Linked DNA regions of Homo sapiens. The protein of the gene in region 1 interacts with the protein of each later gene in a biochemical or structural test. Each region holds a gene or a part of one and is shown in the gene's direction. Other genes may lie near its edges.

Region 1 (4,289 bases):
ACTCCCGACCTCAGATGATCTGCCCGCCTCGGCCTCCCAAAGTGCTGGGATTACAGGCCTGGGATTACAGGCGTGAGCCACCACGCCCGGCTGTATTTTTAAATTCATGCACATGCAGTTTGATACTAACAGATGATATGCCTTCATAAAATAGAAATTTCAAAAGACAGATAGATACAAGACAGCAGTTATAGTCATTTTCCCCTCCAAATCTTGTGTAGATCATTCCATATACATTCTGGAATAAAGCCCTTCCCTTTGGAGACTGCTGATTTGACCTGCAAGCACAGCCTTTTTGTGCATGATGTTAGAGGCCTGGGGAGGTCATATCGCTTGCCTTTCACACAAGATCTGAAAACCAGGTGTGTCTGGCTCCAAAGCCTTGGTTCTGCTATGTTCCTCTTTGTCTCCTAGGAAATGGGAACTGACTTAACTAACTTCCCCGTGTTCCATTGTGCTCCTCTGTAACTCACAGTAATGAGCTTAGCTGAATAGGAAGTAGGGGACAGATGGAATCACCTTGCCTACAAGCCAGGGGTTCGCCCACGATCTCTCCTGGGCAGCACGCAAGGGTGAGCCCTGCCCCAGATGTCTCACCCCACCCTTCGTGAAGAACTTGTAACTAGCCTTGCCTATGCCCATCACTCATCACTTTTCTGGCCAGTCTCTACCTTCCAGAAAAGGAAAAATCAGAAATCTGCAGGCTTTCTCAGCCCCTTTGTGGTGCAGACAGCATAGTTTTTTGTTTTTTGTCTTTTTTTGAGACGAGGTCTCACTCTGTCACCCAGGCAAGTATCTTGGCTTACTGCAACCTCTACCTCCCAGGCTCAAGCGATTCTGTCACCTCAGCCTCTTGAGTAGCTGGAACCACAGACATGCGTCACCGTGCCCAGCTAAATTTTTGTATTTTTGGTAGAGACAGGGTTTCGCCATGTTGCCCAGGCTGGTCTCGAACTCTTGAGCTCAGGTGATCCGCCCACTTCAGCCTCCCAAAGTGTTGGGATTACAGGCGTGAGCTACCGCACCCGGCCAAACATAGATGTTTGCATATGTGGTTTTGAATCCCAGCTTAGCTTAGTTGCCCAGTTTTCATCATTACAGTGTCTAGGAATTCAGAAAAGAATGTACGTCTCTGTCCCCATAGATGCTCCATAAATATTTCTTGCTTCCTTGGACTCCCATGATGCCTTACCTGGGCTGTGGGTGACTTGTACCTGGGCCTTGGCCTTTATCCAAAAGCTGGCATTCTGGCAGTATGAGCTTTTGGGGAGTCAGGATGCTGGCCCATGGGTATTAAGTCAGGTAAATCATTAAAGCTCCCACTAACCCATTCTTCCTAGTAGGGGCTTGTTGGGAAGTGAGTAGGCATGGCACATGGGTGAGAGTGCCAGGCCAGGGAGGGTCAGCTCATGTGAGTGCCCTGCGCTGCTTTGGGCTTCTTTGCTTTGCTTTTTTGCCTTAGGCTTCCTGCCTACCTTTCTGAATTTGGGTCACCCTTGGGATAGTTTGAAAGGGACATTCATGTCCATTAACTCCAAGGGTCCTCACAACTGCCCTGTGATACAAGTTACAGTGACCTCATGGTCCAATAAAAAATGACTTTGCCAAGATCACACACTGAGCCTCCCACCCCAAGACATGCTGCCAGCCTTTCCAGGATGACATTAGAGGGTGGAAGGAACCCAGAGCAGGAGGGGCCTTCCAGCCATGGCCCAGCCCTCCATTTGACAAATGGGGAAATTGAGTCCAGAGAAGGGAAGAGATTTGTCCGAGATAAGGCTATCACAAAAGATTTGAGGCGTTCTATGGAGCTGTGTTTTGTTTTGATTTTTGAGACGGAGTTTCGCTCTTGTTGCCCAGGCTGGAGTGCCATGACACAATCTCAGCTCACCACAACCTTCGCCTCCCAGGTTCTAGTGGTTCTCCTGCCTCAGCCTCCCGAGTAGCTGGGATTACAGGCATGTGCCACCATGCCCGGCTAATTTTTTTGTATTTTTTTTTAGTAGAGATGGGGTTTCTTCATGTTGGTCAAGCTGGTCTCGAACTCCAGACCTCAGGTGATCCGCCCACCTCGGCCTCCCAAAGTGCTGGGATTACAGGTGTGAGCCACCGCGCCTGGCCTAGCTGTGTTTTTTTTTTAAAGATGCTTTCTTCTCCACATGCCTGTCTGTGCCATCCTCCACCCACCCCAAATGAGCAGGAATCCCCAGACACAGGACTTGCCATGCCATAGGAGCCTGAAAGTTGGATTAGACGTAACTTGACAACTGAAACTCTACTGTGAATGGAAACAAAACACTAGATGTTCCCACTAAACTCTGACCTTGAAGAAGTGGCTTTCCTTGGAGCCTTGGTTTCCTTCTCAGTAAATAGAGACTTGGCTACCCCCAGTGGATGTGGTGAGACTGGCCCCGTGCCCTAAATTAGAGAAGTGGCTATTTTAAGTGGAAAGACCCTTTGTAAGGCCAGTCTGGGTGTACAAATGATGTAAACAGCCCCAAGATGATCCTTGTCTAGTACCGAGCCATCCAGGGATTCGACCCTATTTGCCCCGGAGCTGGGCCAGCCTCAAATCCCCCGTAATCAGCTTGTGACTTCAAGGAGCTCAGCTTTGCCCAGTGCCTCCTGGTCACGGGGTGTCGGCCCAGAGCTCTGCTCAAGTACCAAGGGTACAGCCATCCAGCTCCCTGCTTCCCCAAGACTGGCAAAGCTGGGGAGGCCTGGAACAAAGAGGAAAGTGTGCAGTGTTGGCTTGGGGCCTGCAACCTCACCCCTTCCCCCACCTCACTCCTGGGCATAAAGGTGATAAAGCCGCTCACTCAGTCTGCAGTCTGGTAACCGACGTCCCCATGATGGCGGAGGCTGGGAGGCCTCCTGACCAGATTCATGGGCTCAGAGAGGCTGTGTCCAGGCCTGCAGGCCCAGCCCTGGCTACCCTAACAAGCCTCCAATTGTTACCTCTCTCCACGGGAGGGGTGGACTGGAGCCTGAGGCTCTGTCTTCCAGCCACCAGGCCTGGCAGTAGCTGATGCATAAACATTAGGGTTTTGCAGTAACTGAGCAGGGCTCCCAGGCCTTGAACCTGGGCAGAAAGAAGACAGCATCTCCTCTCTTTGTGACCACACTGACTTGCCTCCCTGAGGCTTCTGCACCCTGGAATGGGAGAGAGCTCTTGCCAGGCCTCAGCTGATGGAGCCTTTGGCTACTGAGGCCTCTGCTGGACAGGAAGTCTGCCTATGTCTCCTAGCCCAGTTTATCTCCCCCTGCCCTGGCATTTGGGAGTGGGGAGGAAACGGCTCCATCAGAAACAGCTCTACCATTGGACCTTAGGCCAGCCACACTTCTTGTTGGAGCTTGTGTCCTCAGCTGTACTGGGGATGAGAGCTAGCTGTCTGGGTCAGCGGCACTGAGGCTCCAGGGGAGCATGTGGTCTGTGCAGCAGGCTTGGGGAGTGCTGAGCAGCACAGATTGGGTTTCATAGCACAGTGGGAGCCCAGACAGGCCAGCTAGCCATAAGCACCTCTGCTGGAGGAAGAGGTGGACTCTCTTGGGCTGGAGGGCCCAGTTCAAGGAAAGAAACAAACAGCTACACTGGGCTCCTTGATCACCCAGCTGTGGCAGTTCTTCTTGAGGACTTCCTGCCCCTAGGTGGGGGCTGCCTTCAGCTCCCTGCTGCGTGTGATAACTTGGGTGTGGCCCTCACAGCTGTGCAGAAGCTATTCCCAGAGGGTTCTGGCCCCAGGTAAACAGATTCTGCTCTGGGCTCGCCTTGCCTCCATCCCACAGCCCTGTGTGCTGTCTGTGGCACAGCCTAGAGCAGCACTGCCTCGTGGCCCTGGCCCTTATGCGGCTGGAGCTGATCCTGAAGTCCAGTGTCCCAGCGGTCATGGCTGGCATCATCACCATCTACAACCTGGTGATGGAAGTCCTTATCCCCAACTCGCTGATCGACTGCATCAGCCTCTACGGGAATCTCCTCCAGCCAAGCGCTAGGCTGAGTGTGGGCCTGAGTGGCCCGGCAGCCAGCTATGTCATCAGCACTGTGGGGGACACAGTGCTGCCTAGAAGCCCGGGCTATTTGTGGGCTTGATCCTGATCCTCATTTTCACTGCATGGTCTCATTCTCTCCACAAAGTAGCCTTTGAGCCCACCAGCCACAGAATGTGATATAAAGATCACCCCTGCTTATTCCAGAATGAACAGCCTGAGACACATATCCCTTCAGTAGTTGGTCTTGTGAATGCAGTGTCCTAGTGCAAATGCCCATCATCTGTTGACCCCATCCTTGC
Region 2 (4,289 bases), on another chromosome or scaffold:
AGGCATGTGCTACTATGCCTGGTTAATTTTTTTTTTTTTTTTTTTTTTTTGAGACCGAGTGTTGCTCTATCACCCAGGCTGGAGTGCAGTGGCACAATCTCGGCTCACTGCAACCTCCGCCTCCCGGGTTCAAGTGATTCTCCTGCCTCAGCCTCCTGTATAGCTGGGATGACAGGTACATGCCGCCACTCCCAGCTAATTTTTGTATTTTTAGTAGAGGTGGAATTTCACCATGTTGGCCAGGCTGGTTTCGAACTCCTGACCTCAGGTGATCTGCCCACCTTGGCCTCCCGAAGTGCTGGGATTACAGGCATGAGCCACCGTGCCCAGCAATTTTTGTAATTTTTATTTTTGTAGAGACAGAGTCTCCCTATGCTGCCCAGGCTGGTCTCAAATTCCTGGGGTCAAGCGATCCTCCCTAATGTTGAGATTTCAGGCATGAGCCACCACGTTGGCCTGAAATGTACAGTTGAATGGCTAGTGGCTGCTCTAGGGGGGCACTGCAGGCCTAAAGGAAGCGGGTAGCCGGGCCAGGGTGGAGGGCTAAGATAACAGAGCTTTCCCAAGCAGAGCCCAGAGCCCAGGGAAAGGATGCTCCATGCAGAGTCTCGGAAGTGAGAAGCGAGGGAACTGGGAATGGTTGTGAATGGCTGGAGGAAAGAGGCAGGAGGGGGTATAGTGGGAAGTGCAGGAAGTAAGGGTTCATCCCAAAGGTGCGAACTTCATTCCGAGAGGGCTCCCTTTCTCTGCACTTCTGGTCTCAAAGATGGAGAAGGGAGACACATGGGGTGACCTGGCAGAAGCTGGGGAGTCAGGGCCCCGAAGTGCCTGACCTTGGCTGATTCTCCCTGTTACTCATCTAACACTTGCTTGTAGAACAGCAGGCCCTATGCGGGGACCGGGGACTCAGTAGGAAAGGAGACTGATAAAGTCACTACCCTACCCTCAGGCAGGTTTCATAATGACTTCCATGAACCTTAGGCACTTTTGCCCTTCTGCATTAAAAAAAAAAAAAATAGGCCAACACGGTGGCTCATGCCTGTAATCTGAGAACTTTTGGGGAGGCCAAAGTGGGAGGATCGCTGGAGCCCAGGAATTTGAGATGAGCCTGGGCAACATAGCAAGAACTCGCCTCTGCAAAAAAATTTAAAAATTAACTGGATGTGATTGTGCCTGCCTATAGTCCCAGCTACTCAGAAGGTTGGGGTTGGGATCGCTTGGGCCCGGGAGGCCAAGGCTGCAGTGAGCCGTGTTAACGCCACTGCACTCCAGCCCTGTCTCAAAAAAAAAAAAAAAAGTTTAAATTTTATGACTTTGTTGCTGCAAAGACCGATATTATCCAGGGTACAATTTTCTCTTTTCTTTTTTTCTTTCACTTCTACTTTGAAAAGAAATGAAAACACTTCCCCTAAAAGCATCATGGGCCCTAGACACTGTAGGTGCGATGCCTGGGATACATCAGCCCCGCCTTCAGGGAGTTTCTAGGCTAGTGGAGGAAACAGACAGCAAGTAAACAAGATGGTTTCTGGGGAAGAGAGATGCTGTGAAGAAAATGGGACAGAGGGAAGTGCAGTCTGGGTAGGGGGCCGGGGAAGGTCTCGCCGAGGAGAACTTCGCGCTGAAAAGGAACTGTGACAATAAGAGGGAAAGCTGTTGCCGAGAGAACCAGGGCTCGCAGGTGTTCTCCAATGAGGGTAGACCTGGGGCTGACAGAGGAGAAGGAAGAGGTGGGGGTGGAGGTGGACCAAGGGAGCAAGTGGGAAATGGGGGCAGGGCTGGGTCCCGCCTGCAGGACCTGTCTTCGTGTGGGCTTCCCTAGAACGGGAGCCGGAGGTGGGGATTCCTGTACCAAGGGTTTGCTACGGGGGAACCTTCAGGGAGTGTGGGAGACTGGCTGGGGTTGTGGAAGGAAGTCAAGCAGACACGGTTCACGCTGGAGTGGGAACCCATGGGGTCAGGCTGGGCACCCCGGCTTTAGTGCTGCCTCGGGCCTCCGTATCCGTCCATCGTGGGCTGTGGGCTGCTCCAGGAAGCAGGGACACATAACGGACTGGGCGAGTCCAGGACTCTGAAGGAGGGTGATTCTTAAGGGCTGCAGGCAGGTGACCCTCCCAGCAGTGGGTGAGGGATGGGATGCTGCATCCAGGGGGAGGGCAGCTGCAGGGGCACCAGCAGTGCCTGCCATAGAGGGTCTTGTAGACCAGAGTTGGGAGTTTGGTCCCCTCTGATCTCCTCCTAACTGACATGGGATTTCAAGCAGGGGCAATAGCATGCTTTTTGAAAGATGCCTCTGACTCTTGTGTGGAAAACAGACTGGAACAGGGTGGGGGATCAAGGATGGCAGCAGGGAGATGAGGGAAGAGGCTGCTCCATCCCGGAGAACACTGGTGGGGACCTGGATGTGGGCAGTGGCTGGAGGAAGGAAGCAGATCAAGAGTCGATGGAAAATCTGCTTTCTTCTCCTTTCTTTCTCCTTCCTGCCCAGACTTGAGGCTTTTCATTCCCGCAGAATTCCCTTTCGCCTTCTTTTCTTTTTTTTTTTTTTTTTTTTTTTTTGAGACAGAGTCTGGCTCTGTCGCCCAGGCTGGAGTGCAGTGGTGTGATCTTGGCTCACTGTAGCCTCCACCTCTCCACCTCATGGGTTCAAGTGATTCTCAAGCCTCAGCCTCCCGAGTAGCTGGGATTACAGGCGCCTGCCACCATGCCTGGCTAATTTTTGTATTTTTAGTAGAGAGACGAGGTTTTGCCATGTTGGCCAGGCTGGTCTTGAACTCCTGACCTCAGGTGATCCTCCTGCCTCAGCCTCCCAAAGTGCTGGGATTACAGGCGTGAGCCACGTTGCCCGGCCTCCTTCCACCGTCTTCACACTGCTCTCCCTTACGGCAGGGGCTTAGGGAAGGAATGGGGGCAGCCGTATAGTGAAGCCACAAGCCTTTCTGCGCTGACTGATCTCTCTCTATCTTTTCTCTCTCTCCCCCTCTGACTGCCGCTCCAAAGTCGAGCTTCGATCCCCACCACCGTGCCCAGCCAAGTTACGAGCGTCCTTCTTTCCTGCCTCCAGGACCTGGGTTGATGCTCCGGCAAAAATCTATCGGTATGCCACCCAGAAGAAGAGATGTGGGGGCTGGGGGAGGCCAGGAACGTGACAGTTCAGGAAAAGCAAGCAGACTTGGAAATGTTCTGTGCTCCCAGAGAGACCATAGTTTCATCAAATTGGGTTAAGAGTTCAGGCTTTGGAAATGGGTGAACTTGGCCATGAATCCTGGCTCCCCTCCTTCCCAGCTGTGTGAACTGGGGCAGGTGGCTTGACTTCTCTGGGCCTCTGGCTCTACATCTGGAGAATGGGGATGCAGTGAGCTAAAGCCCCCGCTACAGCTTTCTGGTTGTTTCTCTTATACCCGATTCCATCCATTCATTCATTTTACAAGTGTTTACCAAGCGCTCCCCACATGCCAGGAATTGTTCTAGAATGGGGATACGTCAGCGAATAAAACAGACTAAAGGTTCCTGCCCTCATGGGCTTGCCTTATAGCAGGGGAAGACAGATAATGGATTATAAGGAAAATAAGCAAGAAAATTATCTAGTATGTTAGCAGTTGTACGTGCTATGGAAAACAAAAAAAAGAGTGGGCCGGGCGCAGCGGCTCACGCCTGTAATCCCAGCACTTTGGGAGGCCGAGGCAGGCAGATCACAAGGTCAGGAGATCGAGACCATCCTGGTTAACATGGTAAAATCCCATCTCTACTAAAAATACAAAAAATTAGCCGGGTGTGGTGGCGGGCACCTGTAGTCCCAGCTACTCAGGAGGCTGAGGCAGGAGAATGGCGTGAACCCGGAAGGCAGAGCTTGCAGTGAGCCGAGAACGTGCCACTGCACTCCAGCCTGGGCGACAGAGCAACCCTCTGTCTCAAAAAAAAAAAAAAAAAAAAAGAGTGAAAAAAAATAATGGAGTAAGGTAAGAGAGATAGGGAGTGCTGGGTAGGGGGCAGGGTGCAGGTTTGAGCTAAAACCTATAGATGGGCCAGGCACAGTGGCTCACACGTGTAATCCCAGCACTTTGGGAGGCCGAGGCAGGCGGATCACAAGGTCAGGAGTTCAAGACCAGCCTGACCAACATGATGAAACCCCATTTCTACTAAAAATACAAAAATTAGCCAAGCGTGGTGGCATGTGCCTGTAATCCCAGCTACTCAGGAGGCTGAGGCAGGAGAATAGCTTGAACCCGAGAGGCAGAGGTTGCAGTGAGCAAAGATCGCACCATTGCACTCCAGCCTGGGCGACAGAGCGA
Region 3 (4,289 bases), on another chromosome or scaffold:
ATCTTGTAGTTGAACTTATTTGGATGCTCCAATACCTGGACAATTGACAATTGAGTTGAATCATTTTGATACAGGGTTTTTTTTGGTTTGTTTGTTTATTGAAGCTTTTCCTGCTAGTTTGAGATCATAAATAGGCATGCCTCTTTCTGAAGAATATAATAACCTTTTTTTTTTTTGAGATGGAGTTTCACTCTTGTTCCCCAGGCTGGAGTGCAATTGTGTGATCTTGGCTCACCACAACCTCTGCCTCTTGCATTCAAGCGATTCTCCTGCCTTGGCCTCCCAAGTAGCTGGGATTACAGGCATGTGCCACCACGCCTGGCTAATTTTTTTTTTTTTTTTTTTAGTAGAGATGGGTTTTCTCCATGTTGGTCAGGCTGGTCTCAAACTCCCGACGTCAGGTGATCTGCCCGCCTCAGCCTCCCAAACTGCTGGGTTATAGGCGTGAGCCACCGCGCCTGGACTACCTTTTTAATTTTTTTGAGGCGGAGTATTGCTCTGTCACCCAGGTGGGCGTGCAGTGGCGTGATCTTGGCCTACTGTGACGTCTGCCTCCCGGGTTCAAGCGATTCTCTTGCCACAGCCTCCTGAGTAGCTGGGATTACAGGCTTGTGCCACCATGCCCAGCTAATTTTTCTTTTTTTTATTATTATTATTTTTTTTTTTTTCCAGCTAATTTTTCTGTTTTTAGTAGAGACCGGGTTTCACCATGTTGGCCAGGCTGGTCTCGAACTCCTGACCTCAAGTGATCTGCCCGCCTCAGCTCCTGAAAGTGCTGGGATTACAGGTGTGAGTCACTGTACCCAGCCTAGAATATAACAACCTTTTTTTCTTTTTTTTGTGACGGAGTCTTGCTTTGTCATCCAGGCTGGAGTGCAGTGGCGCCATCTTGGCTCACTGCAGCCTCCGCTTCCCAGGTTCCAGTGATTCTCCCGTCTCAGCCTCCCCAGTAGCTGGGATTACAGGCACACACCACCATGTCCAACTAATTTTTGTATTTTTAGTAGAGCCTTGTTGGCCAGGCTGATCTCAAACTCTTGGCCATCTGTTGATCCGCCCACCTCGGCCTCCCAAAGTGCTAGGATTACAGGCGTGAGCCACTGAGCCCAGCTTAACCTTTTTTTGTTATTTCCAAAAGTAATACATATTTAAGGTATAGAAATTCAGAAGCCATAAGTAAGCAAAAAGAAAACACTTAAAGCGAGGGAGAGGGGTTGAAGACAAGTTGGTTAATTGGTACAGAAATAAGGTAGAAGGAATAAATTCTAATATTTGATAGTACAGTAGGGAAATTATAGTTAGAACAATTTATGGTGTATTTCAGAAGAGCTGGAAGAGAATTGTACTGTTCCCAATACAAAGAAAAAGTAAATGGAGCCAGGTGCAGTGGCTCAGGCCTATAATCCCTGCGCTTTTGGGAGGCTGAGGTGGGAGGATCACTTGAGGCCAGGAGTTCTAGACCAGCCCGGGCAGCATAGTGAGACCTTGTTCCTACAAAAAAATAATTATTCAGGCTTGGTAGCATGTACCTCTAGTCCCAGGTGCTCGGGAGGCTGTGGTATAAAAGGATCCCTTGAGTCCAGGATTCGAGATTGCAGTGAGCTATGATTGGGCCACTGCACTCCAGCGTGGGTCACAGAATGAGACTCTGTCTCTATAAAATAGAAAGAAAAGGTAAATGTTTAAGGTTACAGATATTTCAATTACTGTGATTTGTTTGTTTTGTTTTGTTTTGTTTTGTTCTTTTTGTTTTTTTGAGATGGGAGTCTCTCTCTGTTGCCCAGGCTGGAGTGCAGTGGCCTGATCTCAGCTCACTGCAACTTCTGCCTCCCGGGTTCAAGCGATTCTCCTGCCTCAGCCTCCTGAATAGTTGGGACTATAGGCATGCGCCACCATGCCCGGCCAATTTTTTTGTATGTTTAGTAGAGTTGGGGTTTCACCATGTTGGTCAGGCTGGTCTCGAACTCCCAACCTCAAATGATGGGCCTGCCTCAGCCTCCCAGAGTGCTGGGATTATAGGCATGAGCCACTGGGCCCGTCCAATGACTGTGATTTGGTCATTACACATTATATACATGTATCAAAATATCACACGTACCCCGAAAATATGTACAAGTACGATATGTCAATAAAAACATACACAAAGAAGTCACTTAAAATTATCTTAAACATCAGCATTGTGATATATATTTGTCAATATGTGTATATACACATATACAACTTTACATGCTATATCTAACTTTTTTATTTTTTTATTTATTTTTATTTTTTTTTTTGAGACGGAGTCTCGCTCTGTCTCCCAGACTGGAGTGCAGTGGTGCGATCTCCGCTCAGTGCAAACTCCGCCTCCCGGGTTCACGCCATTCTCCTGCCTCAGCCTCCCGAGTAGCTGGGACTACAGGTGCCCACCACCACGCTGGGCTAATTTTTTGTATTTTTGGTAGAGACGGGGTTTCACCGTGTTAGCCAGGATGGTCTCGATCTCCTGACCTCGTGATTCGCCCGTCTCGGCCTCCCAAAGTGCTGGGATTACAGGCGTGAGCCACTGCGCCCGGCCCTTTTTTATTTGAGACAGAAACACTGCAATCTCCACCTCCCAGGTTCAAGCGATTCTTGTGCCTTAGCCTCCCAAGTAGTTGGGTTTACAGGTGTGCACCAACATGCCCACCTAGTTTTTGTATTTTTAGTAGAGACAGGGTTTCACCATGTTGGCCAGGCTGGTCTCGAACTCCTGGCCTCAAGTGATCCACCTGCGTTAGCCTCCCAAAGTGCTGGGATTACAGGCATGAGCCACCACACCCGTTTCTTAACAACAAAAGAGTGTGAAGTTCTTCCTCACAGAAATATTCATTTTCATTATCACTGACACAGCAGCATAGGATTCCTTGTTTGGATGTGCTGTAACTCAGTCTCCTGTGTATTAGATATCTAGGTGTGGAATCTGGGCTTTAATATACATCACACTTAAGATGCTTTTATGGGGCCCATGTGGCTGGGCACGGTGGCTCACACCTGTAGTCTTAACACCTTGGGAGGCTGAGGTTGGGCAGATTGCCTGAGCTCAGGAGTTTGAGACCAGCCTGGGCAACATTGCAAAACCCCATCTCTACTTAAAATACAAAAAATTAGCTGGGCATGGTGGCACGGGGCCGTCTGTAGTTCCAGCTACTGCGGAGGCTGAGGCAGGAGAATCGCTTGAACCTGGGAGGCGGGCGTTGCAGTTAGCCGAGATCACACCACTGCACTCCAGCCTGGGAGACAAAGCGAGACTCTGTCTCAAAAAAATAAAATAAAATTTTAAAAAATGCTTTTATGGATTTAAAATTGTTTTTTCATTCTCCATGGGAGTTAAAAAGTAGAAAGTAGAATCATGAGTGGACATGCGTTTTAATAAATTGGAGGTTTGTGTAATTTCAGTAACGTAATAATACCAGCTCTATTAAAAATGAAGAAATGGACCTTTTGTACTGGGAAGTAGTTGTAAGTCCACGTATTTGTCTTCTCACTGGTGTATATGTGTAAGCCCAATAATTGTGTTAGTTTATGTAGTTTCTTGTTTTTTTTGTTTTTTTTTTTTAGTGTCTATAAGTCAAGTCTTTGGTGTTAAAGATTTTAACTATCATTTGCTGTAATTCTTAGAAAGCCGAGGGACTAATCATTTATGTTTCGTGCATAAGGAAATGGGCGTTAGCTTCCCCAAGACCCCAGGAGCCAGGCATTGTTCTTACCCCAAAGCCTCAGGTCAGACTTCTGCTGCTTCACGTTAGAAGTCATGATCTTTTGTATTATGGTAAAGGGAGCTTGGAAAATTAAGTACTTTTAATTCCATTTAATGTTTCTTTCAGTCTTGAATCCAGATAATAGTTTTGAAATACTGGTTGACCAATCTGTGGTGAATAGTGGAAATCTGCTCAATGACATGACTCCTCCTGTAAATCCTTCACGTGAAATTGAGGACCCAGAAGACCGGAAGCCCGAGGATTGGGATGAAAGACCAAAAATCCCAGATCCAGAAGCTGTCAAGCCAGATGACTGGTGAGTCTTGGGGAACTGTCTTCAAGTGTAAGGGAGCATTTCATATATTCCATGTGGCTTGAACAACGAAATGTTGGTTGAGTAAGCTCTGATAATTTCAGTAATCCATGATGCAGTCTAATCTGTAGGGAAAATATAGAGTACTATAGCTGGAAAGGGGCCATAGTGTAATCATCTGGATTGACTCACCATTTTACAAGCCACAGAATGCCACACTTGATAAGAGTTTGTCTGTGGTGACACTGTTGGTTTGT
Region 4 (4,289 bases), on another chromosome or scaffold:
TCATAAATACTAAACAAAGAAGCTTTCTTTGTATCTGAAATTTTCCTGAAACCAAGGAATGCTGTGGAAGAGCTCTAGTTCCCTGCTGTATTTCCTAAGATTGTCTCTCAGATCCACTGCATTTTATCATTATTTCTCAGCCAGGCATTGTGGCTCACGCCTGTAATCCCAGCACTTTGTGAAGCTGAGGCAGGTGGATCACCTGAGGCCAGGAGTTTGAGACCAGCCTGGCCAACATGGTGAAACCTCATCTCTACTAAAAATACAAAATTAGCCGAGCATGGTGGCACATGCTTGTAATCCCAGCTACTTGGGAGGCTGAGGCAAGAGAATCGCTTGAACCCAGGAAGTGGAGGTTGCAGTGAGCCGAGATCGTGCCATTGCACTCCAGCCTGGGCAACAAGAGCGAAACTCCATCTTAAAAAAAAAAAAAAAAAAAAAAAGATTATCATTATTTCTCATCAAAAAGAGATGTCACTTATTTGTTCAGGAAGTAGATGACCTGGCTTCTCTTCCTTACCTATGCACTCTTTTGCAATCTCTTGAAGTATAAAAGAACTTCTCTGCAAGGCAGGTAAGACAGTTTCCTAGGCCAGCTCCCAGTTTCTGCCAGGCTTTTGCCTCAGCACCATTGATGCAGCATGAACCTAGGGCTGTGCTGATAAATGCTTAACAACTCCCTGCAGAGGGACAAAAACAGTTTGAAGGAATTGCCCAATTCCATGGTGTCAACATTCTCACGATGGGTAATTTCAGGCTACCACGATATGATGATACCATGATGAATGTGGAGATGGGAAGAGGTGATCAATAGCACACCACTGTAGAGTGTTTCCTCTATATGGATAAAGTAGAAATCAGCTCAAGAGAATAGGTACTAATACAATAAGTAAAACAGTTAGAAAGTGATGAGTTTGGAGTATCTGTTACCTTTGTTTTTATTTTTATTTTTTTTAGAGGCAGTCTCTCTCTGTCACCCAGGCTGGAGTGCAGTGGTGCAATCTTGGCTCACTGCAGCCTCCACCTCCTGGGTTCAAGTGATTCTCCTGCCTCAGCCTCCCAAGTAGCTGAGATTACAGACACCTGCCACCACGCCCGGCTAATTTTTGTACATTAGTAGAGATGGGGTTTCGCCATGTTGGTCAGACTGGTCTCGAGCCCCTGACCTCAAATGATCTGCCCACCTTAGCCTCCCAAAGTGCTGAGATTACAGGCATGAGCCACGGCGCCCAGCCTGTTACCTTTGTTGTTACACAATGTATTTATGAACGAGGGGTGACTCCTCAGAGTCTGCTCAGGGAGACAACGCAGAGTGGCAACAGGGCTGTTGTGGAGGGGTTGTGGGGGGGACTGCTGCTGCCTGTCAGAGAAAGTTCTCTAGAGGAAGAGGTATTGGAAATAGATCTTGAAGAACATGCTGGAGTTAACCAGGCACGGAAAAGGAAGACAGATCATTCAAGGCCGAGGGGGCCTGGAGGAATGACCCGAGGAAAAGGCCATGACCTGAAAGGAGCTCTCCCTATGGGTGGCTGGAACGTGGCAGGGAAGGCTGCCATGGGGGACTGGGTGCCTGAGGAGGGGCTGGACCATATTGCAAGAGGGGAAAAGGGAGATGGTGAAAAGAGATAGGAGCCCCACCACGAGAAGGGCAGCTAGACTACAGAGGAGACCTCAGCGCCATTCTGTGAGGGAGACACTAGACTGAAGGGGAGGTGTCAAGACCATCCTGTCGTGGGTACTAGACTGCAGAGGAGGGTTCAGGGCCATCCTGGGAGAGGGGGAAGAGCCTGCAGAGGAGGCCTTAGGGCCATCCTTTGAGGCAAGGGAGGACTAGACTGTGCATGAGGCGCCATGGCCATCCTGTGAGAAGGGCAACAAGGCCATACTGTGAGAGTCTGTAACTGTTGTGGGGGAGGCCAGGCTCTTCCCCGTAAGCAGGGCAGCCATCAGAGGGTTTAAGCAGGGTGTGATGAGGTCAGAGAGAAGTTTGAGAAAGATCACTCTGGAGGCTTACAGGAATAAAGAGATTGCAACCTGGCTCAGTGCTCCCCAGCCTCCTACCATTAATCCTTCCTGAGAACCTGCCGCTGGATGAGTTTTCACTGTCCTACAAAGCCCATAGCACCCATGGATCCAGAAGGCCAGGCTTTAGAATGGTGCCAGCCTAGCAGCCTCGTACTCGTCATAAAATTGCTAAAAATACAGATTCTCAGGCCCCACTTCTAGCGATCTGACTCAGTACATCAGGGGTAGGGCCAAGGATCTGTTGTATTTTTAAAATATGATTCCCCATCTGACTTTGACGCCCAGGCAGGATAGAACTGAGGTCTGGGGAGGGGCTTAGCAAACCTGGGCAGTGCTGCCCACACAAAGAGGAATCAAAGTAAATACCACATTTCCATGAACAGACAGTTCTCCTTGGAGGTGGGGATGGAGTTAATCCAGCCTCCTTTAGCTCAGAGAGATGTGGGACAGGCGGTCTGATAGCATGGGGAGAACATGGAAGCTGGAGTCCCTCGGATCCCGTGTTCGTCAGTATAGGACGGTCTTAGGCCAGCCACCCTCTGGCCCTCAGTTTTCTCGTCTGGCAGGGTTGGGTGGGGGTCAGGGGGCTAGAAGGACACATAGGTAGGAGAATTCTGTTGTGTAACTGTTGCTGTACCCTGTGTTGCAGGCTATGAATCCAGGGCCTGCAGTGACTCAGAGGAGTCCTCTGAGGTGGACTGCGTACTCGAACCTCTCTCTGACAGGCGCCTGGTGAAACTGGCACCCTGCAGATCACTCATAAAGGAGGAGCAGCCTCCTGGGAACAGCCCCACACCTGAGGTGGCTAGGAGGGGCCCCAGCACCTGCGGGGCCAGCAGCACGACAGACAGTGCCGAGTCCGAGGCGTCCGACTCAGCCAACACTGAGAGCCGCGGCTACAGGACCAGTGGCTCGAGTGAGTCCATGGACGCTCTGGAAGAGGATGACTTAGACACCTGCTCCTCCAGCAGGTCCACCTTCTTCCACTTTGGCTCGCCAGGCCTCGCAGAGAGCATTGACTCTGACAGCCAGGAGGAGAGAAGCGGGATTGAAACCAGTGGCTTCCTCTGTCTCCTGGACCTGGCCCAGAGAGCCAACCCCCAGTGCCAGAAGACAGAGTTTTCCGAGAGTGCTGCTTTGGAGACATTTGGCTGGGCACCAGAACTGAGCACAGTCAGGCTGGACCCCAGGCTGTATGAAGGCAGCCACGCTGACTACTACAGCCTGTGTTCCAGTGTCTCCCCGGCCAGCTACCTGAGTGACAGTTCCGAGAGTACAGCTTCCCGGCAAGGGGGAGCCCCGCCAGCCTGGGGTCAGCAGGGCTGGACTGAGGCCCAGCCCAGTTCCATGCTGGAACCCCTGGCCCTGCACCCACCACTGGCCTTTGAGGATGGCAGCTCAGATGAGGAATACTATGACGCGGCTGATAAGCTCACTCCCCCAGGCCCCCCGTCAGGTGAGCCGTCCCTTGCAGGTCTGCAGACACGGCAGGCAGCTCCTGAGTGCCTCCCGGGGATCAAGGCCTGGGGCCAAGCTTGAGAGGAAGGCACATGAGTGAAACAGGGTCCCTGTACACTTCTGAGGAGGTAGATACAGATTCCATGGACCAAATTTTAGGCATCGTGGCAGGCCTGCAAGGGAGGTTCAGACAACTGTGGCAAGCAGATGGGAGGGATTCATCCAACAGTGGGAATCAGGGAAGGCTTCCCAGAAGAGGGGGCAAATGGGCTGGGCCCTGTGGGAGGGACAGAATTTACAAAAAAGGAAAGGGCTTGACAGGAGTGCCCGGCAGAGCGAAGTGGCTATGTCATCACTGATCCTGAGGCTGCATTAAAGGAGGCCTTGAAGCAAGAAGAACCAGACAGACAGGCCGTCTGTGGCCCTGCAAGGCCTTCTGGGGTCCAAGGGACCCTGACATCAGAAGGTAGGGGATCTGGTGGCTGTGTTTCTATCAGGTTCCTCATACATTCCTCCACCGAGAGTGTGGAGGGTCTTTCCAAGCAGAACTGAGATCCTGGCAGGACACACACACACACACACACACACACACACACACACACACACTGCATTCTGAAGGAAACATATTGGAAAAGAGCACATGGATGTTGAAGGTGACCTGCCAGGAGCTGGGAGAGCTGCAGCCCTTGTTCCTGTCTCGGCACTTTCCTGCTGCTCTCTGATCCTCTATTCCCAGACCTCCTGTGCTCTCCCACTGTTCTGGAGAGAAAGGCCAGCTCCTCTGGGAGCCCCATCAGGCCCTTTGA
Region 5 (4,289 bases), on another chromosome or scaffold:
GACCTAGTTTAGATAAAGATATTGAAAATGCATACAGAGGCTGGGCTTGGTGGCTTATGTCTGTAATCCCAGCACTTTGGGAGGCCAAGGTGGGTGAATCACCTGAGGTCAGGAGTTTGAGGCCAGCCTGGCCAACATGGTGAAACCCTGTCTCTACTAAAAATTCAAAAATTAGCCAGGCGTAGTGGCAGGCACCTGTAGTTCCAGCTACTCAAGAGGCTGAGGCAGGAGAATTGCTCTAACTTGGGAGGCGGAGGTTGCAGTGAGTTGAAATCACGCCACTGCACTCCAGCCTGGGCAACAAGAGCGAAACTCCATCTAGAAAAAAAAAATGCATACAGATAGATTAAATATGGTTGATGCAGCAAATAGTTTGCACCCATTTCTTTAAAAAAATAATAAAAAATACTTATGCTTCTGAAGCTGAGCATACCCATACCATATAACCCAACAGTTCTCCTAGTTAAATAGTCAATAGAAACTGGGTCCACATGAGTGCTAAAGGACAAGTTTGAGAATTTTCCAAGCAACACTATTCATAATAGCCCCAAATTTGAAACGATTCACATGTCTAACAGCAATAGAATAGATAAGTAGTGGGTGTAATTATATGGTATAAAACATCACAGCAACAAGAGTGAAGAAATTACAACTATGCACAGTGACATGAAGGAGACACACACACACACACACACACACACACACACACAGAGAAAAAGGCCATACCTAAGAGTGAAGAGTAAATACTGTGTGATTCCAGTTACATAAAATTAGACAGAATTAATCTACAGTGTTAGCAGTCAGGATCATGGCAGACCTTTGCCGGAAGGTCAGTGACGGAAGGCGGGCACAGGGAGGTTTAGCAGTTCAGGTAATGTCCTCTTCTTTATCCCATGCTGTTTCCTTGGGTGTGCTCTGTATGTGAGAATTCAATCAGCTGTATCGTTACCATTTGTGCTGTATACATGTCATCCTTCAGTAAAGGTTACATAGAAGCCCGCGTAATTGTTTAAAAGATCGGACAATATAAACCTACAGAAAGCATAAGGTAAAAGGCTTCCCCAGTCTTACTTTACAGAGGTAAACACAGTGAACAGCTGGCTGCAAACCTTTCCAGACTTTTTCCGCACACGTAGCATTTCTAAAACCAAATTACTATATCTCAGTGAACTATTGGGACTTCATTGCTTTGTGCTTTCTGCCTTATTTTTACTGTAACAAATCAAGAATTAAAGACATCTTAATGTCAAGGGAAAAATACATTTTTGATATCTGCTAGATCTAGTTCAAACCTTATCTTGTCCATTTACTAGCTTGTATGTTCTTGGACAGGTTAACCCCTGAAAATTCAGTGTCCTCATTTGCAATGTGGGAATAATAGCGCTTGTCTTCAAAGGTTGTGGTGAGGATTAAGATGATATATAGAGAGAGCCTAGTGGTACTATTAAACTATTAAATATTAAAAATATTAATGGTAGCTACTATATATTGAGTGTTTATTACGTGCCAGGCATTGTTCTGAACTCTTTACAAATGCAGTCTCATTTAAGCCTTCCAGCAACCTGATGAGGTTGATGCATTATAAATTTCATTTGATAAATGAAGATACTGAGTCAGAGAGAGTAATTCCCTCAAGGTTTAGTGAGTGTTTAGGCTTTGGGTTATGGGTGGTAGCTGTTGGAGCTATTTAAAAGCACGTAGGGTTCATAGGAGCTTGTTTGGAAACTTTTGAGGAACTCGACGACTTCTTGACGGAGTCTCGCTCTGTCGCCTGGGCTGGAGTGCAGTGGCATGATCTCGGCTCATTGCAACCTCCATCTCCTGGGTTCAAGTGATCCTCCCACCTCAGCCTCCCAAGTAGCTGAGATTACAAGCGTGCGCCATCACACCTGGCTAATTTTTTGTATTTTTAGTAGAGATGGGGTTTCACCATGTTGGTGAACAGGCTGGCCTTGAACTCCTGACTTCAAGTGATCCGCCCATCTCGGCCTCCCAAAGTGCTGGGATTACCGGCATGAGCCACCACGCCTGGCCTCGATGACTTCTTAAGAATTTAGTCAGAGTATTCTATTTGGCTACCTGTTTTATTATATTCCTGTCTGAGAAATGGTGGTCGGTCTTTCAGACTGAGAGAGCAGCACGTCTCTTTGAACTGTCACCCCTTAGCACTAATAACTTCTTTTTGCACCATGCATAGTGTGAAGCTGGATTAAGGTGCAACTTATCTACAAGCATCTACCCTATTTTATTGCCTCATTTCCCTGAGAAAATGGTTATAGACTAACCAAGAACATTTTAAAACAGTGTTATGTTTTCAGGTCACCCTGTGTAAATGCATACAGCTTCTGCAGCCATAATATGGCTGTGAAGTCTGTGCCACAGCCTCGGCTCACAAACATACTGAGTCAGAAGATTCTGACTAAAGAGAGTTCAAATTCCACATGTAAATGGCATCCTACAGAGCTGGGTCCTGCTTTATCCCCAGTTTAGAATCTGTTAAATTTGTACCCAAATACCTTGACACAACTGTTAAATCAGCGGAGATTATGCTTAAAGGCATGTAGCATTGCGATTGAACTTGAATCTCACATTTCTTTATCCCAGTTGTATATAATTATTACTATCGTTATTTAGGCTGTCTCTTTCACTTACTTGCAGGCTTGTCTTAGGCTTGTCTTTCACTTAGTTACACATTTACAATATTTAAAACACAAGAACACATATAAGATTTAACAAAAAATTGGAACATGGAAGAGGAAAGAGAGAGAAGTGCCAGGAACTTTAAATCAGTTGGTTCTGTAATTGCACACTACATTTAGCTGTGAGTTTTCTGGCCAAGGGAAAATAGGACCCACGTCGAGTTATTTAGATATCTTGTTTGGAGTTATTATACTTCTACTGGTTGGACGCAGTGGCTCATGCCTGTGAAACTAGCACTTTGGAAGGCCGAGGTGTGAGGATTGCTTGAGGCCAGGAGTTCAAGACCACCTTGGCCAACACAGTGAGACCCCATCTCTATTTAAAAAAAACAACAAAATTACTTATGCAATGCTTCATTTGCATAGCATTTTCAGGGGTGTTAACCAACATTACAGGGGCTGTATTTTTTTGTTTGTGTTTTGTTTGAGACAGCATCCTGCTCTATTGCCCAAGCTGGAGTGTAGTGGTGCTATCATAGCTAACTGCAGCCTCCACTTCCTCCCAGTTTAAGCGATCCTTCCACCTCAGTCTCCTTGAGTAGCTGGGACTACATGCCTGGCTAATTTTTAATTTCTTGTTCAGACAGGGTCCCACTGTGTTGCCCGGACTAGTTTCAAGATCCTGGGCTTAAGCAGTCTTCCTGCTGTGGCCTCCCAAAGTACTGGGATTATAGGCATGAGCCATCCCTGCCTGGCCTATTTTTTTTTTTTTAAGTCTGTTTTGGTAAGAGATAGAGGAATACTATTCTAATGGATATTCCTTTCAAGGGCTTTGTATGTATTTTATAGGAGTATAAGTTCTGCCCTTGAAGGTGTTTCTGGAGGAGCTGAGATTTTAGGGTCTAATTACTTTTTGTCTACCTGATGACTTTAACTTCATTCAGGGAGAGAGTTTAAGGGGAAAAGATAGTCATAGTCATCATCTCTCTTGGTGTTTCCAAACCTGATGAGCATTAACATTTTCTGGGAAGCTTTAAAAAGGTATGGGTTCTTGGGTTTCACTGTATAGGCTGTCTTTGGTGGATCTGAGATGGGTTGTGGAGCTCTATCTATATTTTGAATCCCTGCCCCCATGGGATCTGATGACCAACCTGTTTGAAAACCATTGCCTCATCCTTGCAAATATCACAGTTGGCTGAGTATTGGTGAGTGGGGTTGATTTCTGGCCTGAGGTTTAGAGCCAACTCCAAGGGGCAAGGTTAACAACGTTCCATAAAGAGTCAGGAAATTGACCTGTAGTCCTGTCCACAAATAAGCCTTCTGAATAGACACGGTTTTTCCCTCAAGAAAAAGAAAAAAATAAAACAAAGCAAAAACCTCTGCCTGAGAACCATTTAAACCATTTGACAAATATTTGGTTAAAACCCCCACCTCTGTCAAAAAGGCAACAGTACTGTTTATTATCCAGGCTGGAGTACTTCTGCGAATGAAATGGGGTGGTCTTGATAGTTAAGCTGTTTTGGGCAAATCAGGGCATTTGGTAATCCTAGTCATAAAGTATTTCTACATATAATCATGCTTTCCATAACTTTTAAACTGAGCCAGTGGTCACAAACTCATTTGTATCAAGGGGCTAGGAGGCAACACAAG
Region 6 (4,289 bases), on another chromosome or scaffold:
GCCTTCTGGAGGTATGACATCAACTACAGAACCCTAAGCCCTGCCCCATTTCCCAGCTGAGTTTGCTCATCCAGGCAGGGTTGTCGGCTACCTCACTCTCTCCACATCTGCCAGGTAGCACAAAGCACCTGGCACTAAGATGCTTTTGAGTGGGTGCATTTATCCTGCCCTTCAGCCTGGCAGTGTCTCTGGGATGCTGCTGTGTCTTAGCTGCTGCATCTCCCTTTTCTCCTGGAGTCTGAAAAGTGCTCCATAGCTTTGCAGGGTGCAGGGGTTATAAGAGGCTAATCAAGGTTACAAATAGCCTGCAGTTTTTTGTTTGTTTGTTTGTTTTTAGACAGAGTCTCGCTCTCACCCAGGCTGGAGTGCAGTGGCATAATCTTAGCTCACTACAACCTCCACCTCCTGGGTTCAATCAAGAGTTCAAGCGATTCTCCTGCTTCAGCCTCCCGAGTAGCTGAGACTACAGGCACATGCCACCATGTCCAGCTAATTTTTTTTGTAATTTTGGTACAGACGGGGTTTCACCATGTTGGCCAGGCTGACCTCAGGTGATCTGCCTGCCTCAGCCTCCCAAAGTGCTGGGATTACAGGCATGAGCCACCACACCTGGCCACCCTTTTTTTTTTTTTTTTTAAGACCGAGTCTCCCTCTGTCACCCAGGCTGGAGTGCAGTGGTGCAATCTCAGCTCACGGCAACCTCTGCCTCCTGGGTTCAAGCAATTCTCCTGCCTCAGCCTCCCAAGTAGCTGGGACTACAGGCGCCCACCACCAGGCATGGCTAATTTTTGTATTTTTAGTAGAGACAGGGTTTCACCATATTGGCCAGGCTGATCTCGAACTCCTGACCTTGTGATCCACCCACCTTGGCCTCCCAAAGTGCTGGGATTACAGGCGTGAGCCACCACGCCCAGCAGATGCCTGCAAATTTTTAAGAGACAGAGTCTCCCTCTGTCACCCACGCTGGAGTTCAGTGGTGAGCGATCATAGTTTATTGTAACCTCAAACTCCTAGGCTGGAGTGACCCTCTCACCTGCCTCCTGAGTAGCTAGAACTACAGCCATGCACCACCACACCCTGCCAAATATTTTTATTTTTGTAGAAACAGGGTCTGGGCTCCTTTGCCTGGGCTGGCCTCAAACTCCTGGCCTCAAGCAATTCTCCTACCTCAGCCTCCCAAAGTGCTGGGATTATAGGCATGAGCCACCATGTCCAACAGCCTCCAAACCTTAATGGCTCAGAACAACAAAAGTTTCTCATTCATGCAACGTCCAATACAGTGCTCCTTAATCATCTCTCCTCCTCTCCATGCCCTGCATTCAGTCAGTCAACAAGCAGAGAGTGTGCAGGATCACAAGGATGGTTGCTAGAGGCAGACCTGGAAGGAGCATACATTGCTTCCACCCTCATTCAGTTGGCCAGAGCTAGTCCCAAGGCTGCAGTCAGACACAAAGCTCTAAGCAATGTGGTAGTCATGTGCCGGAAAGAGGAACTAGGCTTGGTTAGCAGCTGGTACTGGCCGTAGCGAATGAAAAACACAATGACGGCTTCTGTTGAATACTCCCGGGTGACTCTTCCCCAAGGACTGGCCTTTCCTCAGGACCACCTTCCTTATGCTCACCCCCCACCTCCACTATCCAATCAGATCACACCAGGCAGCAAGGCAGCCCAGTCCCAGCTCAGCCAGGGTGACCTCGTGGTGGCCATTGACGGCGTCAACACAGACACCATGACCCACCTGGAAGCCCAGAACAAGATCAAGTCTGCCAGCTACAACTTGAGCCTCACCCTGCAGAAGTAGGTGGGAGCTCTCCAGAGCAGGGGGCGGAGGTTTGGGTGTGGGCATGGGGCAGGGGCCAAAAGAGGGATTGTCCCATAGCAATTGAGTGGGCCCCGCCCTGGGCTACAAAACTGTGCAGGAAGATAAGGACAGCCCTGGGCCAGAGGAATGAACAGGCCCAAGTCGCTGTCAAGCACCTAGAGGCAGACATTACTGCCTCACTTTACAGTTAAGGCAGAGATGGTGGTCCTGGTGCTGCCCGTACGTGGGCCATTGGTCCTGGAAGGCAGGTCTTACCTACTTCCACTTTGCCCAGGCAGCCCCCAGTGACGTAGCAGGGGCCCATGGATTCTGACCAAAATGCCCAGGGGCCATGATTTCTCCATCCTCGTCGGGCCCAGGGCCTTCTTGGGGAGATCCAGCCCATGGGGTGGACAGTGGATCTGGGGCCCTCTGACTCAGCTATCTCTGAGAGCTGACTCTGGCTCTCTCTTGCTCTCTCCTCACCAGCCCTGCCCAGGCAGGAGCTTCTGGCCCCAGGGGCAACTTCCTCACCTGGTCTCATTTCTGGTTTCTACAGATCAAAGCGTCCCATTCCCATCTCCACGACAGCACCTCCAGTCCAGACCCCTCTGCCGGTGATCCCTCACCAGAAGGTAGGTGCTGACTGTGGCGGCGGGGTCCACTCAGCCCTGGTTCCTGGAGTGCTGGCCCTGGCCAGCCTGCCTGGTCTTTGGCTGGCCCAACTGGGATGAGGCCGTGGGATCAGCCCTGCCCCATCCCTGCCCCTGCTGCAGCTGACCCTGGGGAAGTGAGGCAGCCCCTTGGGAGAGACTTTCAAGCCCCTGTTGAACACTGGATGTGGGAATGAATGCCTGCCTGGGTGCAAGCCACCTCCGCTATGCCTCGTGGCTGGGCTGATAGGAAGCCAGCTTGGGCAGCAGTGTTCCCAGGAGAGGGGTCACCCTCCTGGCCAGGCAGGGGACGAGCGTCCAGGCTCTGACCTTCATTTGCCAAGGGGGCCACCGCTGGGTGACTGTGGCTGAGGCCCAGCTTGACGAGGACCTCCAGGTGTGGAGGGGCCTGCTGGCCTCACCCAGATCTCTCCCTCTGGTTTCCACTTCCCCACCTGCCCCTCCCAAGTGCATTCCCCTGTAGCCCTTAGGACGTGCTGGCAATGGCAGGCACAGGGGAGAAGGGAGGCCAAGCCCTGGCTCCAGACCTCACCACTGCCTAGGCCCTTCCCAAGGCCCCGCCAAGCAGCTCAACCCCCGAGGGCTCCCTGCTCAACTTCTCCCCCTATGTGAACTGATAGTGACCCCACCTGTCCAATGGGGCAGATTGGGCAGGGCAGTGGGGAGAGGGGAGAAAAAGAGGCTGACAGGGGTGGGGTAGGTCACAGACTGGGGAAGTGGGTGGAGGGCTGCTTGGGAGATGCTTGCAGAGGTAGACTGAGGGGCCCAAATGTGAGCTACCCAATTCCTCAGCTTCCCTCCTCACCTCCCCACCACCTGCCCACAACCAGCCCAGGAACTTCATCTCACTGGCAGTGTGGGGTCAGTGGAGCAGGAGGCTGGGCTGTGCCCACTGGGCACCCACTCTCAGGGGCAGGGGGAACAGACACAGAACGGGCCATCCCCTGACCCCTACACCCACTTCCTCGGGCCCTGGGGGCAGGAAGCTTGGCTTGGCTTCCATGCAGGGCTTGGCACTCTGCCCAGCTGGATGCCAGCCTCACGCCAGGCCAGGAGCCATGTGCCTGCCTGCTCCTCCACCAGTGTCCTCCCCTCCAAGTGCTGCGCCCAGGCGCTCTGGGCTTCAGGCTGCGGGGCTCGCGCTAACACATCTGTTTCAGGTCCACGCAGGAGCGCTGGGACGCGTGTGGCCTCTAACCGCTCTCTTCTCTCTCCCCTGCATGGCCTGCCCTGTGCCAGGACCCCGCTCTGGACACGAACGGCAGCCTGGTGGCACCCAGCCCCAGCCCTGAGGCGAGGGCCAGCCCAGGCACCCCAGGCACCCCGGAGCTCAGGCCCACCTTTAGCCCTGCCTTCTCCCGGCCCTCCGCCTTCTCCTCACTCGCCGAGGCCTCTGACCCTGGCCCTCCGCGGGCCAGCCTGAGGGCCAAGACCAGCCCAGAGGGGGCCCGGGACCTACTCGGCCCAAAAGCCCTGCCGGGCTCGAGCCAGCCGAGGCAATATAACAACCCCATTGGCCTGTACTCGGCAGAGACCCTGAGGGAGATGGCTCAGATGTACCAGATGAGCCTCCGAGGGAAGGCCTCGGGTGTCGGACTCCCAGGAGGGTAGGTAACGGACATACAGCTCTCCACAGGTGGCCTGGGCCACCTGGGTCCTCGGTGCTCGGCAGAGACCTGGTCAGGTGGTCAGAGCGAGGCACTGGCCCCAATCCAGCCAGCCCCGAGCCCATGAGGTCAGCAGTGATCCTGCGGCATTTGCCATGAGCCGGGCATGCTAGCGATTTATACAACCAACCACGCTGGGGTGACATG
Region 7 (4,289 bases), on another chromosome or scaffold:
GAGTCTGGAAGGTAAGACAAATGGTGAACTTTGATGTAAAATATCTTTGCCTTCTTAGAAAGCTTAGGATTTATCCATTAACTCATCCTCTATCCAAGGAATAGTAACAGCATTTACCATAGACCAGCATAGTATGTAGACAAAGGCTGAAAACTAGCAGCCCACCAGCTAAATTTAGCTTATATTTTTGCTTTGTTTGGAAGACACAAGATTTTAAAAGCATCTGAATTTAAATTGCTACAAATGTGCCAGGCTCTCTCCAGCTCCCGGTGGTCTCCACCGTTCCCTTTATCCTGTACCAAGTTGCCATTCACACAATAGCCCCTGCAGGCACTTGAGTTTGCAGCCCCTAGTTTATAATAATAGAATATTAGAAAAACTAACATTTGGGAATATAATTCTGACATTTATTTAATTCTTATAATTCTTATAATAAATCAGAGACTATGCTAATTCATGCATTCACACATAATTTTTATGCAAATTTTATAAGAAAAAGTGAGGCCCTCAGAGACTCTCTTACTCAAAGTCATACCACTAGAGCACAGAGGCTCTGGAATGGAGATCCAGCTGGCTTGACTCCCATGCCTAGCCATTGGGCATTAATCACGTCTACCATGGAACATCCTTATGAAAGAACAACATGCAACCATTGGCACTGATATTGACAAGAAATTAAATGATCTGGGGAAATGTTCAGAGAAAAGAACAGAACACAATTTATTTCAGCTCTGGTTTATTATTTCTACCCACCCAACATGCATATATGCTCGGGAAAGCATGACAGAGAAACTCACCAAAATTTTGACAGTAGTTATTTCTGGCTGATAGGAACACAGGTGAAGTGAATTTTTACTTTCATTCCTTCCTCCTTGTGGCTGAGTTTTCTCTAAGGAGGATGCATTATTTCATGATCAGGAAAAAAAAAAAGAAAACTTTTTATTTAAAGAGAAAGTGAGTTAGGAGCTTGGCTGGCCTTGGTTCTCTCTCATGGGGCTCCTCTGGCTTTCTTGGTCTCTCAGAATGAGCTGGAATTTGAGCAAGAGACTAGATTTCAATCCTCTCCCACCCCTTCAAGCTGTGATTTTAGGAAAGGGGCACCCTTGACAGCTTACCACTAGAGAGAAGGGCCTCTCAAGGATGTGTGGGTAGCCCTAGTGCTGGAAACTAGGGTAGGGGGTACTGAGAACCAGGAAGGGCTAATGGGGAGGGAGGGAGGAAGGTGCAGTGGCTAAGAAATAGCGGCTTTCTGCCCTCACCTCACCCTCAACTGGAAAGAAATAGTGACTTCTTCGTGTAAGATTCAAAGTGCCTTGACAGGTAGTTTCTCTGTCTTTGTTATTGAGCCTCAAAATAACCCCAGTGACTTTAAAATTATCATCCTCATTTTACAGATGCAGAAATGGAGTTGGGTCCCCCAGGAAGCTGACTCTGAGATGGAGTTTGGTCTGCAGGCAGTGTCCTGGGGTTCACTACCTGTGGCAGGGAGGGGAGCAGGCAGGGTAGACAGAGGGAGGACGGAGCTGAGGTGCACACCCAACAGCTTCAGCCAAGCCCTGGAGCTCTGCAGCCAAAGTCCCCATTAGAGTTGTCCTATGTTGGCCAACATAGCTGGGCCTCTGTAACCCTATCTCCAGCAGTCCCTGGAGATGGGCTGCCCCATTGGACAAGGCAGCTGTCTGCAGCTGTGGCAGCCCCTGGAGGGACCCACAGCTGAAAGTAGTCTGCCAGCAGCACTCCCCACAGCTGGGACACCAAGCCCTTCCTCGATGGGTGATCTGGGTGGCATATCTCCATATACATCAGTCATAGGCTCAGAAAGCTTGAATGATTTTCCCAACCCAAAGTCATACAGCTCGCCAGGGACCAACACCAAGACTGCCATACTCCAGATCCACAGTGACTTCAGATAAGAAGCAGATGGCCGATGTGCAGTGTGCTGCCCGTGGCAGTCACAGGTGAGGCCAGGGGGTATTTCTGTTTTCTGAAGCTCAGCTGTGAAGATTCTCTTGTGCTTCCCACACAGGTGTCAAAAGGCTGGAAAGCAGTTGGCACGGGCGGCCCACCTTGGAGAAGGAACGAGAGAAGAACTCAGCACCCCCGCATCGCAGGGCTCAGAAGGTCATGATCCGCTCCAGCAGTGACAGCAGCTACATGTCTGGGTCCCCAGGGGGAAGTCCTGGGAGTGGCAGTGCTGAGAAGCCGTCCTCTGACGTGGACATCAGCACACACAGCCCCAGCTTGCCTCTGGCACGGGAGCCAGTGGTGCTTTCTATAGCATCCTCCAGGCTGCCCCAGGAGAGCCCACCCCTCCCAGAGAGCCGGGACAGCCACCCGCCGCTGAGACTGAAGAAATCCTTTGAGATTTTGGTGAGAAAGCCTATGTCCTCCAAGCCCAAGCCTCCACCCAGAAAATACTTTAAAAGTGACAGTGACCCTCAGAAGAGTCTGGAAGAGAGAGAGAACTCCTCATGCTCTTCTGGGCACACCCCACCCACCTGTGGCCAGGTAAGAGGATGGGTCCACAGGTTGAGTGTTTCCAGGACCAGACTCAAATCTTGAGCATGGGCAAATTAGCAAGTTAGTGTTAGCAGGGCCAGAATGAAAGTTTCTCCTGCTCCACCAGAGAGAAACTGTTGCCTAGGACTCAGCTGAGGACTGACCATGAAAAGATGGGTTTGAAGGTTGACAGATAATTGAAGTCCCAGTCCTGCTTGCTGGCATCTGGGTTCCCACCCATAACACACTGGAATTTAAGGTTCCTTTCTTGTGTCATTTTTCACTCACCATGAAGGAAAAATACCAGGGCCCCTGCAGGGTCTCAGTCTTTGCATGTGGATCTTTGAGTGTCCTGCTTGTAGGGAGAATAGTGGCTTAAATAACTAAAAAGGGGCCTGGCACGGTGGCTCATGCCTGTAATCCCAGCACTTTGGGAGGCTGAGCCGGGTGGATCATGAGCTCAGGAGTTCAAGACCAGCCTGGCCAAGATGGTGAAACCCTGTCTCTACTAACAATACAAAAATTAGCCGGGTATGGTGGCAGGTGCCTGTAATCCCAGCTACGCAGGAGGCTGAGGCAGGGAATTGCTTAAACCCGGGAGGAGTGGCTCCTTCCAAGGGCTATTGTGAGGATTAAAGGTAACCACTTAAGGCAAGTACCTGACAGCATCTCAGGCATATTAGCATTCATTGCCATGATCTTTCCCCATCAGGCCCCTTAAAGCCCTCCTTTCCACCCCTTGCATAAAAGGCAGACTGACTGACAGACAGCTGCTGTGTCTAGAACCATTTTATGCGCAGGCTAACCACACTGAGTACTTTCATGTACATTGTGTCAATTAAATCTTACAACCACCTGATGGTGAGAGTCCCAGTTGTGCAAAGAGGGAACTGAGAAACTCGCTCAAGTTCACATTGCTAGTGGGTCACAGTTACCCACTATGCAATGCTGAGTTTCCCATCCTTACCCAGAAGCTGTCTCCCCCATCACGGAATGGCCCTGCAGGGGCCCTGGCCCTTCCCTTAAGCACACCGTGGGCAGGTGGGAGGGGGCCTCTGGAAATCCCCTAAAACAATCTACAGTGAGGGTTGGCAAGCTTCAGGAGGGGTAGCGGTGGAGACGGGATGTTGAGTAGGAGGGGTGAAAGTGAAGGAGGGAGGAGGAAGCCAGGTTACTAAAAAGGAAGTGCAGTTTTGCAGAGCGCTGGCAGGATGTGGCTGGTTAGCAACACATGATGGAGTTATCAGATGGATCTGTTCTCCCACCCCCTCTTTTAAGCCCATATTTCATTTTCCCTTGGGCCTGAGACCTATGAGTCCAGAAGGGCAAATCAGGAGCAGCCAGCTGAGAAGCCAGTCATTTTGCCTTCCTCCTGGAGGCCCAGAAAAGGAGTGCAGTTGCCACAGCAGGTCTGTCCCAGTGATGCCCTTGGCAGAGCCACATAGGGTCAGGGAATATTCCCGAGTAAGGCGTCTGGAGAAGGAACTGGGGTGTCCTCAGGGAAGCCCAGGCAAGGAACTTCCCACAGGTCATCTTTCATGCCCTGTGTGCCTCAGCAGAATACAGGGCTCCCTCCTGTACCTGCCCCCAACAGCACCGTCTCCTGGAGACAAGGCCGTTCTGCAGCTGCCCTCCTCTGTTTGCTCTGGTCTGTCCCACGTGGCCAGCAGATCCTTCTCCCACAAACATTTCCATAAAAGCAATCAGCACGACATAATTTTATTGGGCACTGGAGAGGCGGGGGTCACAGAGAAAGGATCATAGCACGCAATAGAAAACAGGAAGCAATT

Evidence for each region.
Region 2: the proteins of SLC2A1 (region 1) and SHANK1 interact in a test that uses a peptide from one of them, tested with the Homo sapiens proteins (one large-scale study listed by IntAct).
Region 3: the proteins of SLC2A1 (region 1) and CANX form a complex in vitro, tested with the Homo sapiens proteins (one study listed by BioGRID).
Region 4: the proteins of SLC2A1 (region 1) and FRMPD1 interact in a test that uses a peptide from one of them, tested with the Homo sapiens proteins (one large-scale study listed by IntAct).
Region 5: the proteins of SLC2A1 (region 1) and PDLIM1 interact in a test that uses a peptide from one of them, tested with the Homo sapiens proteins (one large-scale study listed by IntAct).
Region 6: the proteins of SLC2A1 (region 1) and LDB3 interact in a test that uses a peptide from one of them, tested with the Homo sapiens proteins (one large-scale study listed by IntAct).
Region 7: the proteins of SLC2A1 (region 1) and IL16 interact in a test that uses a peptide from one of them, tested with the Homo sapiens proteins (one large-scale study listed by IntAct).

The regions. Positions count from the first base shown.
Region 1 is NC_000001.11:42,952,069-42,956,357, reverse strand, and holds part of SLC2A1 (solute carrier family 2, facilitated glucose transporter member 1), read left to right. Parts: intron 1-4,289. UniProt on the Homo sapiens protein: Facilitative glucose transporter, which is responsible for constitutive or basal glucose uptake. Has a very broad substrate specificity; can transport a wide range of aldoses including both pentoses and hexoses.
Region 2 is NC_000019.10:50,670,823-50,675,111, reverse strand, and holds part of SHANK1 (SH3 and multiple ankyrin repeat domains protein 1), read left to right. Parts: intron 1-2,997; coding exon 2,998-3,094; intron 3,095-4,289. UniProt on the Homo sapiens protein: Seems to be an adapter protein in the postsynaptic density (PSD) of excitatory synapses that interconnects receptors of the postsynaptic membrane including NMDA-type and metabotropic glutamate receptors via complexes with GKAP/PSD-95 and Homer, respectively, and the actin-based cytoskeleton.
Region 3 is NC_000005.10:179,712,260-179,716,548, forward strand, and holds part of CANX (calnexin isoform d precursor), read left to right. Parts: intron 1-3,639; coding exon of another isoform or gene 3,640-3,741; intron 3,742-3,845; coding exon 3,846-4,035; intron 4,036-4,289. UniProt on the Homo sapiens protein: Calcium-binding protein that interacts with newly synthesized monoglucosylated glycoproteins in the endoplasmic reticulum. It may act in assisting protein assembly and/or in the retention within the ER of unassembled protein subunits.
Region 4 is NC_000009.12:37,737,404-37,741,692, forward strand, and holds part of FRMPD1 (FERM and PDZ domain-containing protein 1), read left to right. Parts: intron 1-2,674; coding exon 2,675-3,481; exon of another isoform or gene 3,482-3,949; intron 3,950-4,289. UniProt on the Homo sapiens protein: Stabilizes membrane-bound GPSM1, and thereby promotes its interaction with GNAI1.
Region 5 is NC_000010.11:95,280,403-95,284,691, reverse strand, and holds part of PDLIM1 (PDZ and LIM domain protein 1), read left to right. Parts: intron 1-4,289. UniProt on the Homo sapiens protein: Cytoskeletal protein that may act as an adapter that brings other proteins (like kinases) to the cytoskeleton. Involved in assembly, disassembly and directioning of stress fibers in fibroblasts.
Region 6 is NC_000010.11:86,677,722-86,682,010, forward strand, and holds part of LDB3 (LIM domain-binding protein 3), read left to right. Parts: intron 1-1,645; coding exon 1,646-1,797; intron 1,798-2,360; coding exon 2,361-2,436; intron 2,437-3,714; coding exon 3,715-4,082; intron 4,083-4,289. UniProt on the Homo sapiens protein: May function as an adapter in striated muscle to couple protein kinase C-mediated signaling via its LIM domains to the cytoskeleton.
Region 7 is NC_000015.10:81,290,530-81,294,818, forward strand, and holds part of IL16 (pro-interleukin-16), read left to right. Parts: coding exon 1-11; intron 12-2,026; coding exon 2,027-2,508; intron 2,509-4,289. UniProt on the Homo sapiens protein: Interleukin-16 stimulates a migratory response in CD4+ lymphocytes, monocytes, and eosinophils. Primes CD4+ T-cells for IL-2 and IL-15 responsiveness. Also induces T-lymphocyte expression of interleukin 2 receptor. Ligand for CD4.